Linked DNA regions of Homo sapiens: region 1 is reported to be linked to region 2. The links are microRNA targets in miRTarBase. Many come from high-throughput screens and were not tested one by one. Region 2 holds a microRNA gene; the other region holds the end of a gene's coding sequence.

Region 1 (7,121 bases), not on the chromosome of region 2:
GATAGTATCAAATTCTAGTGTCAAAAAAAGGTCAATATTTATCTTCTACAAAGGAAGACGCAAAATAGTCAACCCATTAGAGGTTAAAAATAAAATTGTTAAAGTTTGAATAAATATTTCTCAATTAAGGTAAATTCCTACCTAATCATGGGCTACTTTAATCTCATCAAAATCATTAGCATAAAATTTTGTTATAATGAATTTGAAGGGCTCTAAGTCTCAAGTCTGCAAACCTTTTCTGTAAAGGACCACATTGGCCAGATGTGGCCTTTATCACACATTCTGTTTATTATTTTTTAAGACAGTTTTTAAAATATAAAAACATTCTTAGCTAGGCCCTGTGCTAGTTATTCAAATCTGGTAGGCCCATTTGGCCATTCAGCTTATCTTCCTATTGCAGTGAGTCCCCGCAACTCTATAGGAGGAAAAACAAAGCCACAAGGGTGTGTTTTTGTGTGGCTTGCATTTTGAATAGGTTTCTGTCATGTCTTTTCCTATTGTGTGGAGGCTGTTCACTTGAAAACAGTATGCACTTAGAGTTTTTAGGAACAAGTTTGTTTATTCAGCAGTTCTTAAAAGCCGTTTCAGCAGTCTTATTCAGCCTAGGGTTCCACCAAGGCTGTAGCAGCGGAAATCTACCTTCAGGTAAATTATACATGGAAAAACCACTCAGAGCCGAGTGGTGTCTCCGTATAGCAGCTTAGTCCTGAGCAGATTGAGCGATGGTTTTTGCCAGCTGCTTCAAAAACCTGACAGGCAGGATCTGTTTAGACTAAAATCGATTCCTAAAATAATAGACCTGGACTGACCGTAATTATGTAACTGCAGATCTAAAAATGATGAAGGATTTCCTTATAAATTACTATGGAATCATGACTGGTCCTATACTATCTGGGAGATGAAAGTAAAAAGAAAGCGTGGGGCTCCCATTTCCCTGGTCCCTGAAGAGTTCTTGGGGTGCTGCAGCACACACATTCCCCTGCAAGCTGAGCCTGCTGTGTTGCTCTTCCCAATACCCCTTTCCTCAGGGGGCAAAATGCAGAAACCCTGTCCCAAAGAAGTCTCCCTATGGGATTCTCCTTAGCTGTAGTGATCATGATTACTGTCATCTTTGTCCCCCCTGGTGTTCAAGGTAAGTTTGAACCTCCGCAGCCTTGCCAGCTTTTTGGGGTCGCCAAAGCACATGCCTGCCCACTCACTGCCCTTGTTGTCTTTCTCCCACCCCGTGCAGAGTACATCCAGAAATACGCCACGGAGGAGGCGCTGAAAGAACAGGAAGAGGGTACCGGGGACAGCTCATCGGAGAGCTCTATGTCTGACTTTTCCGAAGATGAGGCCCAGGATATGGAGTTGTAGTAGAAAAAGCACCTGCTTTTCAGAAAGACTATTATTTCCTAACCATGAGAAGCAGACTATAATATTCATATTTAAACAAAGCAATTTTTTTTATTACTAAACAAGGTTTTTATGAATAATAGCATTGATATATATATATTATATATCACCCTTTAGATCTTGATTTCTTGGTCATTTCTCAACCTGAGGTGCATAGCATATTCCCACATTCCATTTGGTAGCAATATGCGGTCTGAATGCATGCATTCATGAGTCCATGTGGCCAAGTCAGCCTGTGTGCTACTGAACTGTCGAAGGAAATAGCCGCTCTGATAGGTAGATGTGAGTAAAAAGAACAGGAAAAAATTGCTTCTTTTATTGGTTTCCAAAGAAACAAACCAAACCAACCAGCTCTTGGATGTGAAGATAAAATAGTGCTTTTTTGAAATGGAGAGGAAAAACTTGGGGAGGAAGAGGCCTGCTGTGGGGGCATCGGAGCCAGCCATGTAAGAATCAGAGCTGCTCCTTCCTGTGAATCCTAGGTGGCCCTATGTCTTCTGTGGAGTTACAGTATAAAGCAGGGAGCTAATTAAGAGTATTAAAACTTAAAACCATTTTTTGACTCTGATTTTAAGTACATTTTTATATGTCAGTTGCTGCCCTTCACACTACCAGGCCCTGCAGCCACAGTGTTCTGTTGGAGAAACTTGGGGAAGTGTTTTCTGAACCAGTTCTTTTTCTTGGGGTAGAGCGTGAAATCCAGACCTGTTTTTGAAAGGACAGCACAGGAGGAGAAAAGTGACTGGGACGATGCTTCCTCTCATCCAAAACACATGCAGAGTCACATCCTCATCCTAGTGTTTGGCAGTTTGAGACCGCTACCCTGAACTTAAGAGCTTTAAATATGAGGGTTGTGTTTCTGGGGGGGTTATTTTTTTGGTGTGTGTGTGTGTGTATTGTGCTTAGAAAGGTTGCAGATTTCATCTTCACCTACCAAGAGGCGGCCGCCTCCTTGGACAAGCCGCTCATGGACCATTAGACTTGAGAAGACGACCCACGTGGTGACTGCAAAGCCCTGGGTACTTGCCTTCATGTTCTGGTTTGGTTTTCCCTTTTTCTGCTGCTCTTGGCAGCAGCCTGGTCATCATCTGCTTGTGGGAGTGGGAAATGGGTATTTTAGACCCAACACAGGTTCTAAATTTAAAACAAATAATAATTGGAACAAATAAAGGTTCTTGTACCCAGAGTGATTCTACATGGGAAAAACAAACCAGCTTTTTTCAGAGAGTGACCGAATAGGAAGAAGGGATTCAGAAATATGATGTAGTAGAACATGCCCTGCAGGAAGAAAATGTTTTCTCTCCTGCGTATGTTAAGAGGAAATCAGTTTAAAATGCCTGCTAATCAAATGTCGACTCAGCTAACCATATGTCCAGGTTGCTGCAGAGTTTCTTTCAAATCTGAGTGTTGCCTGCTGAACTCGGAGGGGAGTTTGGAGAAATTTTAGACAGCAGCTCTGTGTTCTTTTTTTGCCGCAGCCAATAAGATAATAGCAGAATTAGCCAATCCTAAAACCTTCTAAAGACGATTTTTGAGCATCCCACTGGGATTATTTAATTTTTCTTTTTGACGTGTGTTTTTAGTTTAGAAGTGCTGTATTCCACAAGGTTTAAGTCAGTGAGGTTGGAAGATACCCTATCTTTTTTATTCAAAAAGCACAATCAATCTTTTGTTTGAAAATCTATATAAAGTACAACTTGCTTTTAGCATGATTATTTTCCTAAATAAAAAGACAAAGAATTTACTTACTTTATGTTAATTACGGGCATGAAGCAAAAGGTTTTCTTTAAAAAAAAAAAAAAGTGCAGTGATGTAGGGCTGTGGTTAGTTAACCGTACTGAGTTATCCATCTAGCATCTGTGGCTTGCTGGAAGGGTAGTATTAACTATTTAACATGTAATGGTGTACTTCACTCTTACCTAGCACGCTGTCTTCTCATTGCTTTGGGGGAGGGAGGGTCTCTCTGCTGGCACTGTCTAACTTGCTTACCTGCTGACTTTGCAGTTTGCTTGTGCTATGACATTTATTGTAGGTGCTATTTAGGGTAGGCTTAAAGTGCTGGGTGGTGATTTGAGTTCAAACAATAAAAAATTGTATTTTTTCAATATTGTATAAACAATAGTGTTCTAATTACCTTAAAAAAAAATAATGACCAGTTAAGAATTGCTTTTGATCTTGTCAAAAAACTGAATAGACCCCAGTTTCGGGAAGGTGTGTGAGCAGTGCCATGACTCTGCCCCTTACCTAATCCCACATCTCTCTAATGATAAGACATTGGCTCGCCTCTGACCAGAGCCCCAGCACCAGAGAGCGGAAGATGCAGAATTGTCAAATGACCTGCTGGGGGAGGTTGTAGGAGTTTAGCAGATTTGAGTGTGGCTGCAGAGAGAGAGAGTGTGTGTATGTGTGCACATGTGTGAGAGTGTGAGCGAGAGTGTGTGTGTGTCCATCTAAGTGTGTGTGATGAAGGTGGGATAAGGCTCCTCTGTTAGTGCTGGAAGCTCCTGTAATTGCCGCATGGATCCCACTGTGCCCTCTTGTTCTGTGCAAGTCTGTCCTGTCTGGGCACTAACCTTGGTCCCATGCATGTTTATGTTCTGGGTGGGGCTTTGCCTCTCCACTGGGAAACTGACTTTTGCTGGGTTGAACAGAGTCCCTTATGCTTTTTGTCCTCTCCCTGCGCCTGGGAGAGGTGGGAGTAGGAGCCCAAACACACAGGTACAGAAAGATCTGGAAGAAGGCCTGGCAGTGAATCCAAGGACTCTGGGCCCCCAACAATAGATGGTAGCGTAAGTCTGGAGCAGCGGTGTTTCACCACCAAATGCCTTTCCAGGCTGCCCTTCCAACACTCAGGAGAGCATCCAGATCCCTGGGCAGAGGCTCTACATTCTTGGCTTTAGAGGTGGTGGCAGCGGCAGCAGGTCAGAGCCACTTCTGGCGGTTTCCCTCCCCTTTTTAGTGCCCATAGTTTTTGGATCCTCCCTTGAGTTTTACCAGCACAAGCCATTCTTTGCCCCTGTTCACATAACTGAGCTCAAGCTCTTGCCAAACACCAACAAGCAAGATGGTTGCAACCTGGCAACATTGAATCCACCACCCTTGGGCTCCCTCTGGAAGCCCCAGCACCGGGGGGCTTTTGGGCACAGGGTCAGTGGTAGCCATCTTAGACACTGACATTTGGCTTTGTCGTCAATTTCATCACCCTCCTTGAGGTTACTGTGCAGTTTCAACCAGCATTTTATCCTAGTGAGGTCATTATCAGGAGTTGCCATATCATCTCTCCAGTACCTAACATTTCTCATCCACTTCAAAAGCTGTTCTGACTGCCAGCTGGCTGATCTAAGCTCCTGAGGAATGTCTCCTCTCAAAGGAATTTTTCCCTCCAAAGGCCCCCTGAAGTCCTAGTTGGCATTGGCCTGGCACATGCTTTATGTTAGGCCTCCCGTTGGGATGGCTGAGAATCATGAAAGACAGATCCTCCGCTAGCCTCTGTGGGTCAAGTTTCTGGACACCAAGTCTCTGGGAACTAGTGTTTGATTTTAAATGGCATGTGGCCCTTCCTTGTTTCAGTGACTTAGAAAAGTAAAAGCCATTTAAAAAAGTTAGCAAGATTTTTTATCGACTTCCCAACTGGGCTTCCAGCCTTGTTGAATGAAATCATCTATCTCTGATTGGGCGCAACGAACTGCATTTCTTTGGACTTCTGAATCCATGTTTGTGCTTTCTCTGGCCCGTGAACACCTCGGCGATTCTGTTAGGGATGGGATGAGTGGGAGGAAGCCCTTTGAGAAGGGGGAGCCGGCCCTGTCATGCGCAGGTTTTCCACTCATCTGAGGAAGAGCCAGGGCTCTGAATTTAGCCTAACACTCATCTTGGCTGTGGGCTTGGGAAGAAATGGCCATTATTTACAGATTGTATTTGGTACATATTGTGTGATACTTGAAAAGATAAAAGGGACTGCCAGCCCCTAACTGAAATCTGAAGCTTTTTATCGCTTATTTTTCCTCGCCCTGTCTCCTCCCTTCCACCTTTCTCCTTGCATTGTGATGATCTAGTAGGCACGTCTGTCAACAGGACACATGCCTCCTCTGACTATAACCTCTTAATAGTTGTGTATAATGAAAACTGTAAACTTTTTTAAATAAACGTGTATATACCTTGGCAAATGGCTGGACCTTGATCAATAAGATAATAGCCCTCATGATTACTCTCAGCTGGTTTTCTAAAATACCCTCTCTGTTCTGGCTCCTTTGAGCAGCAGACGCTGGCTTCTTTTGGCTGAGCAGCTCTTAGAATGCAGATGACTAAATTAGTTTGGGAAGGGAGTGGCACCCTTAGGCAGTAATAACCAAGAGGCTCTGCCCAGAGGCCTGTCCTTGAACCTGGAACTCAGATGCACAACTGCTGGCTATGAACGGGGCTGTGAGGCTCCTCCACTAGAGCCGTGGAAAGCCCGAAGGTCCCTATCTACCCCCATGCCTAAACCTTCTAAGCCCTGTCAACTCACGCTGAGTGAGGATACTCCGTGGCCTGGAGTTCAAGGACAGTGCAGCTTCCTGCTGGGACTGATCTGCCTAAACAGGTGGTCCTCTGCCAAGTGCTAAGCCTCCTGGGAGATGAGGAACGGTGGGTTTTGCATGGTAAAATGCTAATCGCTGGATTAGACCGTTTCGATTCCTTTCTAAAGCGTTTGCCTTTAGTTACCACCAGATGGCGATGCCGCTCAGTCTAATGGAGACGGTTTTGTTAGCAGGACCTTAAGACAAAGGAAATAGTGTTGCTTTGTTCGCGTGTTCTCATTCCAGCTCTTTTCCACTGTTTTCTCCTTATTCCCCTAAACTCCTTTTTCTCCTTCCCTACATGCTGATGCATTCGCGCCGGTTGACCCGGCTTCATACCTACCTGCCAGATTGAATGAGGTCGGGCTACTGAGGAATGGTGTGCCAGTGCCTGCTCCCTCCTCACTGGCAGGGAACCCCCCAGCTACCCTGGATGCCTCCAGAGCCCAGAAGCAAAACATTCAATACATTCTTTGTGGGTGGCGTTCATGGACCCTTTAGCCAAAGGACTGAACCACAGAGCCATGAGTTCGAGTCCCAGCCCTTCCTTTAGCTGTGCAACTTCAGGCTCCTCACTGGGCTTTCATGGACCTTGGGTACTGAGCTGTAAACTGACATCCCTAGACTAGTAGGTTCTGACTCTGCCACCTTGTGACTCAACTCCACCCAGGCTGCGAAACAGTGCCCCGTCATAGGATAGAGTAACTGAGAGAGGATGCTGTATATTAACCACGAAACACCAGCGTTTCAACACAGGTTTAGAGTTTTTAGACTCAGAGCATTGGGGGTGTAGAGCACTTTCCAGCCTGAAGGGGACTTAAGAGGTACATGGGTCACGTGAGCAGTCATTCCATTGATCTCAATAAGGCAGCTGCTTTTAAACCCCTCCCAGGAGAAGTCTCAGTGCAGTCGCCGGCACTTGGGTCCCCCGACCTCCCCCCTCCACCAACCCCAGTAATCTCACCCAGCACCACTCAACCTCTCAGCCTCAGTCTAGCTGTTTCCCAAGTGGCAGGTGGCTTGTCACTACCTGCCTGAGTCATTGTTCCTTTCCTGGGAAGGGGACCGGGGTTTCTGAGGCACGTTGTCCTGGAAAAGAAAGCTAGTGGGCTCTGAGCCCCACAGCTTTCTTGCTGGCTCTGAAGACTGCTCTGTCCTCCTGGGAAT
Region 2 (7,121 bases):
GGCCAAGGACATGATACACTGCAATCAATTCCTTCAAGTAAAGTCACCAACCCAGCTCTTCAGAGACAAGGCAAGTATGGGTAAAGAAACTCTGGCTTTGGTTAGTAACCACATTCCAGAATATTAGAACTGGGGCAGGTTATGGAACCTCCAGGTGAAGGAAGAGGTCAAATCAGAGAGAAATGCCATGATGTGCATTTCTGAAGTGCAGATGTCTGAGTATCAGGAGAGACAGTCACTAACTTTCAGCAAGCTGGTTCATCATGCTGACTTTATATATACATTTATATAATCATCTATAACACAAGAATAAAAGTATGGATCCTGTCCACCTCCTGACAGAATGATGATCAGAAAACAGATTTTAAATGTACTATATCCTTAAAAAGCTAAACACTGTGGAAGGGAGTAGCCATTGAGTTTTTGGCTTCTGGCCAGAGGCCACACTTCCCCACCTGCCAGAATGGCCACCCTGGTCTGGGTGTGGTGGCTCATGCTTGTAATCTCAGCACTTCAGGAGGCCAAGGCAGGAGGATCACTTGAGCCCAGGATTTTGAGAGCAGCTTGGGCAAAATGGAGAGACCCTCAACGCTATAAAAAATTGTTTAAACTTGGCCAGATTGGGTGGTATGCGCCTATAGTCCCAGCTTCTCAGGAGGATGAGGCGGGAGGATCCCTTGAGCCCAGGAGTTCAAAGCTACAGTGAGCTATGATTGCAAGAAGTGGACTCTAGCCTGGGCAATAGGGCAAGACTCCATCTCTTTTTTTTTTTTTGAGATGGAGTCTCACTCTGTCACCCAGGCTGGAGTGCAATGGCATGATCTTGGCTCACTGCAACCTCTACCTCCTGGGTTCAAGCGATTCTCCTTCCTCAGCCTCCCGAGTAGCTGGGACTACAGGCATGCACCACCACGCCTGGCTAATTTTTGTATTTTTAGAGAGACAGGGTTTCGCCATGTTGGCCAGGCTGGTCTCAAACTCCTGACCTCAGATGATCCACCTGCCTTGGCTTCCCAGAGTGCTGGGATTACAGGCGTGAGCCACCGCGCCCAGCCAAGACTCCATCTCTTAAAAAAAAAATAAATAAATAAAAATAAAAATAAAAAAGAATGTCTATGCAGGCTGTAACCCCTGATGAGAAATAAATCTCTCCCTTCCAAATTAATAATAATAATAAAGGAATACCCATTGAGTTCTATATAATTAATGGGAGTAAAGGTATAAAATACATTCTTCCAGGTAGAAGGTAAAAATGCCACTAGGTTCGGGAACGATCTGGCTAAGGGTTCAGCGGCCTCTAGGTTACCTCCCAACAGAGAGACCTGAGGAGGGCAGGGATGAGCCAGGCTGGGACACTGGACCAGAGGCTCAGTGTGGGTTCCAAAGTGGGCCCTGAAACACTCCTCTGTCCTCTATGGGAATCCAACCCTCAGCCCTGCCCCTCCAGGGGCATCACTCCCATCCCACCTGGCCTCACCCATCATTTCAAAAATGTCCAACAACCCCTGCTTGCCTTGAGAGCTAGCCTGGGCCTCCAGCCATGGAGCTCCTGGCCAACAGCGCCACCTATGGCTGGATGTGCGCAGGAGATGGGACCCAGAGGATATGCTGGCAGATGAATTTTTTGGTGAGCTAGCTAGCCTCTTTCCTCACTCCCTGGTAATCACATTTCTGTCTGATATCTGTATTCGACAGTGACCTCTGGGGGACAAAAAAGAGGCAGCAGCCAGCTTCACAAAGTGCTGGGCTGCAGATTCAAGTGCTATCAGAAGCACTTTTGTTCCCAGTTTGGACCCAAGGCCTCTTCCACCAAGGAATGCTTGCTGAAGCATGGAGTTTGTTCTCCTACAGGCAATTTCTCTGTTGTCTGAAATTGCTAAATTCCACTTTAGGCAGTGACTCCTGTTAATGATGAGAACAATAACGGGAATAAACTGCCTCTTATCTGAGGGCTTCAAAGTGCTTTATAAACACAAACCCTTATTATTATGACTTTATATTTATAGACAAGGCCCACTGCAGGGGCTGCTGGCTGCATGTACAGCAATAATCCTGAAATTAATTCATCCATCTCCACCCTTTCCCCTGTCCTCTTAACCCTGCCAAAGCAATGGGATATGGGGGTCACAAGAGGATGGCAGCACCCAGGGCTGCGATGGGGGAGTCTGGGAGCTACCCTGCTTCCCTGTGGGCCTCGTGAGCCTGAGGGAGATGGAAGGGGAGACTGGCACCACATCACCTGAGGAGATGCACAAGGAGCTGTGTCCCCATTACTGCATGTAAAGCAAGAGATGGGTGGGGGCATCCCCATGAGGCATGTTGAATGGCTTCACAGCTTGCAGACAGGTAACTTATAAAACCTCCCATCTCAATGCCCAAATCTATTTTGTGGGAGTTGTCCCTAGACTGTATTCTCTCTAGCCCAGGTCAAGATTGATTCATTTCAGGGTCATTCCCTTCAGGCCTCACACAGGGCATTGTTCTCCTGTGATCAGTCAGGGCTCCAGAAACCTAAATGAGATCAATGCATTTCCAAAATGGAAATGCACTGTGGCCACCTTCTGTCCTTTCAACCCCTGCAGTTTGCCTCCCCTCTAGGGGACCACAAAGGGAAGTTGAGTACCCCTTTTGAAGCATTATGCAAGAGACTTCCAAGCGGCCCAAGCATCTGCCCCACTGTCAGTCTGGGGAGGGATTAGGTTTACTGCTGCCCAGTCTGCTTTAAACTGCTGTCAAGTACTGCTTTAAAGGACTGTCACTCCCACTTCAGACAGGGGTGCCTTCCAAGCTATGGCTCCCTGCCAGCTCTGACAGTGATGTCACCAGGCCACCCTTACCAAGGCCTGGCTCCAGTCAGGAGACCAAGGTCATAATAACCTTTCAGCAGAACCACCTGAGACCACAAGTTAATGGTCCTGTGATTTCCCTCATCATCTCATTCATTCAACAAATATTTACTGAGCCCCTATCTATGCCAGGTACTATACTAGATACTCATTCAAGTTTCTCTTCCCCGATGGAGCTGATTACATTATTCAGGCCGGTCCTGCAGAGAGGAAGCCCTTCCAATACCTGTAAGCAGAAGGGCTTCCTCTCTGCAGGACCGGCCTGAATAATGATCCTAACGCCAGATCAAACCCCACCCTACACCCCGCTCATACACAAGCACACAGGGTGCCTTCCACGCTACTCACTTCTTGTTGGTTGTTCTGACAATGATGCAGCGCTCCTTCTGGTCCACAGAGACACTATAGACATCCTTAGGATAGGGGAGGTTTCGAATCCGCCACTGGAAACTCATCTTGGTGTCCTTGCGCATGAAGATAGGCTGCAGAAGGCAAATCCAACTCGAGGACTGTTCCTGGGGAAGGGAAGGCTCCACCCTCATCAGAGCGCTACCCCGGGGCACAACAAGACCCTCAGCTCTTCTCCACTGCTCCCCTCTGACGCTGCTATTGCTACAGCACTCCAGGCCCTGAGCCCCCGCCCTGGGACGATCAAGCCAAAATGTCTGTATTCATTCAAACAAACATTTATAGAGTGCTGTGTCCAGGTGGCACACTGGAGGCGAGGAGGTGAACAAGACATGGTCCCTGCCCTCAAGAGCCAGCAGCCCACAGCCCACCCCCACCTCAGTCCGTGCAAGACACCTGGACAGATGGACGTACATTGGCATTGCTTTCCTTGATGAGTTCAGGCCCCAGGTTCCCTGCTCCTAGGGGCGCTGGGTCTCCTACTTCAAGCTGCCACTGGCCCATGGCTCCCAGGGCACTTTTCACACGCCACTTTCTCACTGGGGAGAGAAGCAAGCATCGGGATGAGAAGCAAGCATCAGGATGAGAGTGAAGAGAGGGTCTCTGCTCTTTTCTGCTGAATCACCGGCACCACACTAGGTAACTAGCACAAGATGAAAGTGGGAGTGTTGGGCCTTTACTCTCAGCTTTGTTAATCTAAGGAGGGACCTCACAACTTCTGAAATTTCAGTAGAGCATTTCAACATTAGACAACCCTCAAAGCGCATCTCATGGGTGCTCAGGCAAAAGGAACTGGAATGAAGCTCTGAGAAGAGCCAAGTGGAGTCAAGAAACCCTCAGGTGTGGCTTCAAGCAAGGAGAAGATGTGAAGATTAGGAAAAGGGTTGTTTCTGGTAATGGAGAAAATTTGGATCCCAAAAAGGAGTTGAAGCACACTTTTTCCCTCAAAAACATGCAGAGGAAAAAATAATTAAGAGGGTGAAAGCTGTTCGGCAGGTCTGTATCATGATTCAGAAAGTCCAAATATAGAAATTCACTCTTTTCAGGTATACCTTGCTTAAAAAAAAAGAAAAAAGCAAAAACAAAAAAACGCTCCAAAGCTGCATTTAAACAAAATCGTAGGCACATGCCATATTTTAAATGCACGGTTTATAAAAGATCTAATGTGAATTTTTTGTAAAAGGGAATCCTTCTAGAATGCAAATAACCATCTCTATTTTACCTTGTTTCATAACCCAGATGCTTGCATAAGATTTTAAGGCACATATATTATGAAAATTATAAATCAAGAAACTAGTTGAATGGACTACCTGAAAACCCCTGCTGAGATTTTCATTTTCAGGAACCATGCGGTCCATCACTGCAGGGGGATCTTTTCTGAGCCATGACCTCCTATCCCCCAGTTCCTTTCCCTTCCTGCTGCATTTGGAATCCGGGGCTGCCCACTATGGTATCCTCCAGCCTGAGGAGCCCAGCTGGTGCTAAAGACCAGCAGCCTCTGTAGCTGTTTAAGGAGCTAAACAACTCAAAAAGTGCACAGTACTCAGTTACAGTTGTTTCTGTTTGTGTCTTTTTCCAGGTAGGAGTTGAGAGCTACAGTCAGGTTCTCAGCACTAGGCAGCCGGCGGTTTTACTTTAGACCTTTTGAGCAGCTGTGTCAAATCCAAACGCCCTCACCGGTATAAGTAAGGCACACAAGCTGAACACAAAAGTGTGCTGTAAAATTAGAATTTTCCCTTAAATATGTGCTTTTATAAGGTCTGCTGCATTCTGCAGTGTGATTTTATTACCTCTTAGGGCCAAAAATTCTCCCTAGAAACACATTTCCAAGTTTATAATGAAAATTAATAAGGAAGAGTAAAACTTGGAAATATGCTTTATAGGCAACTTTTTTCCCCCACAAATACTTCTCTCTTAAGTGAACGGACTGTGACCAGGAGTATATCCAAATCTATTCAGTGTTAATACCTCACTTCACTGGAAGCAGCCTTCTGGGGGCCTCTGACACAGTTGCAAACTCAGAAGTGACAAATGCCTCCGAGCAGCAGCTTATTGTGAAAAGATCCATGTACCCTACTCTATACTATAGGAAAGATCACTCTCAGATTCTCGCTCAGACTAGGTATAAAATGCTGTGTGTAGAATAAGGCAGGAAATTACTTTTTTTCTCAGGCATATTGACAATGGTATCGGGGACAACTCACACTGGACGGCAGTGTCAGAACCACATAAACACTTGGGACCATTTAGTGTAAGGGCAAACAAGCACCCTTAGACTCCAATGGTGCCACTTTATAATAGAACACAACCATCACAGATTTTAAAGGTGGAAGTTCCTTTAGAAAGCATCTACTCCAGGCCGGGCGTGGTGGCTCATGCCTGTAATCCCAGCACTTTGGGAGGCCAAGGCGGGCGGATCACCTGAGGGAGTTCGAGACCAGCCTGGCCAACATGGAGAAACCCCGTCTCTACTAAAAATAAAACATTAGCTGGGTGTGGTGGCACACGCCTGTAGTCCCAGCTACTGGGGAGGCTGAGGCAGGAGAATCGCTTGAACCTGGGAGGTGGAGGCTGTGGTGAGCTGAGATTGTGCCATTGCACTCCAGCCTGGGCAACAAGAGTGAAACTCCGTCTCAAAAAAAAAAAAAAAAAAAAAAAAAAAAAAGAAAGCATCTACCCAATGTCTGTATTTTTAAAATGAGAAATAGCATTTTTTCCCTGACTGCTCTCTTTCAACCCTTGCCACTACTCTCTAGGAAACAGACTATGAAGAATTACTGAGGCTCAAGGAGACAATCTTACAAATGCCACGGCTAAACTCCAGGTCTCCTAACTCCAAATCCAGAATTTGAATTATTAATAAAACTTTATTCTGAAAGTGTTCAATAAGCACATGTAATATTTTGAAAGGTTTCTGTTTTTTTTTAAGTAGCTCAATTTATTTTTTATATTTGGCCTTTAAAGGGTAAGCTTTGATTATCTGAAAAAGTAAATTATGAGGACTACCTCACGACCTAGGGCTGGATAAGTGAGGTGCCCCTGTAAGTCATGGGCCTTGCTAAAATGGGTGTCCTAATGCATAATAATGCACCAAGGTGGCCTGGAGGGACGACAACCACCCCAGGGTTTTCTGTGCACTTTTACTCCAAAAAATTTTGAGTTTTACACAGAAAACTTCCCAAGAAGTACTCAAAGAAGGAAGAAAGTCAGCTGCTGATTTCCTTACTTCTGACCTTAAAAACCACTCAGGGAACTTGACACCTCTGGCTGCTTCACCTTTATTTTTTGTTTAAACACCTTGAGAATTAAATTCTTTGTTAGAATGTAGAAGAAAGTCTCCTTTCCCATTCCCTCTAGAGATAAGACCCAATAAAAGATTTTGGGGAAGTCCTTCTTATTTTTCCTATGCACAAGTGCATGGGTGTGAACACACATGTACAAATGCACACTTTGTCTTGTCTTTCTTGCCCCCGTCTTTGTTTCTGAACTCAAGGACGGCTCCTGCGGCAACAGAAGACTGTTTCCATCTGCTGTCACTCTGATTTGATTATATGTTAAACCCAAACTGGTGTGAGGCAGCTTCCCGGGACGCTGTCATATCTTCCCAGCTGAGCCCCAGCCAGACCTTGGAAAAGAGACTTTCCACCCCGGTGAAGAGTCTGATGGGGAATATATAAAGGAGGTGGCGCCTGGGGGCTTTTTCCTAAATCAGCAGGAAGCAGGCTGATGTCCCAGACTGCTGAAAGGAGGCCCCATCTTTCAGGTGGGCTGGAAAGTAGAAGTCCTAAAGGCCTCTTTCCCCAAAGCTCCAAACCCTGGCCCACTTCCAATGTGGATAATTACATTCCCCTTCCCTAAATGTTCCCT

Evidence for each region. The annotated mature microRNA hsa-miR-3158-5p reads CCUGCAGAGAGGAAGCCCUUC and lies in region 2 at 3,046-3,066, shown strand. An mRNA with a match to its seed (bases 2 to 7 or 8) in the 3' UTR can be bound and repressed. Matches are read on the target gene's strand: a 7mer-m8 pairs with bases 2 to 8, a 7mer-A1 pairs with bases 2 to 7 and ends in A, and an 8mer does both.
Region 1: the mRNA of UBE2H is a reported target of hsa-miR-3158-5p. Seed matches in the 3' UTR shown: 7mer-A1 at 2,776-2,782 and 7mer-A1 at 3,775-3,781.

Annotation. Positions count from the first base shown.
Region 1 is chr7:129,829,172-129,836,292 of GRCh38, reverse strand. It overlaps UBE2H (ubiquitin conjugating enzyme E2 H), which reads left to right. Exons shown (of 7, transcript NM_003344.4): 7 at 1,232-5,561. The coding sequence ends at 1,356. Among named protein-coding and RNA genes, the nearest start is that of MIR183, 58 kb to the right of the region's middle. RefSeq lists enhancers at 1-238, 973-1,632.
Region 2 is chr10:101,597,410-101,604,530 of GRCh38, reverse strand. It overlaps MIR3158-2 (microRNA 3158-2), which reads left to right and starts at 3,034; the gene lies at 3,034-3,114. It overlaps DPCD (deleted in primary ciliary dyskinesia homolog (mouse)), which reads right to left. Exons shown (of 6, transcript NM_015448.3): 3 at 3,669-3,793; 4 at 3,195-3,328. It overlaps MIR3158-1 (microRNA 3158-1), which reads right to left and starts at 3,114; the gene lies at 3,034-3,114. RefSeq lists a silencer at 1,486-1,645 and an enhancer at 6,965-7,121.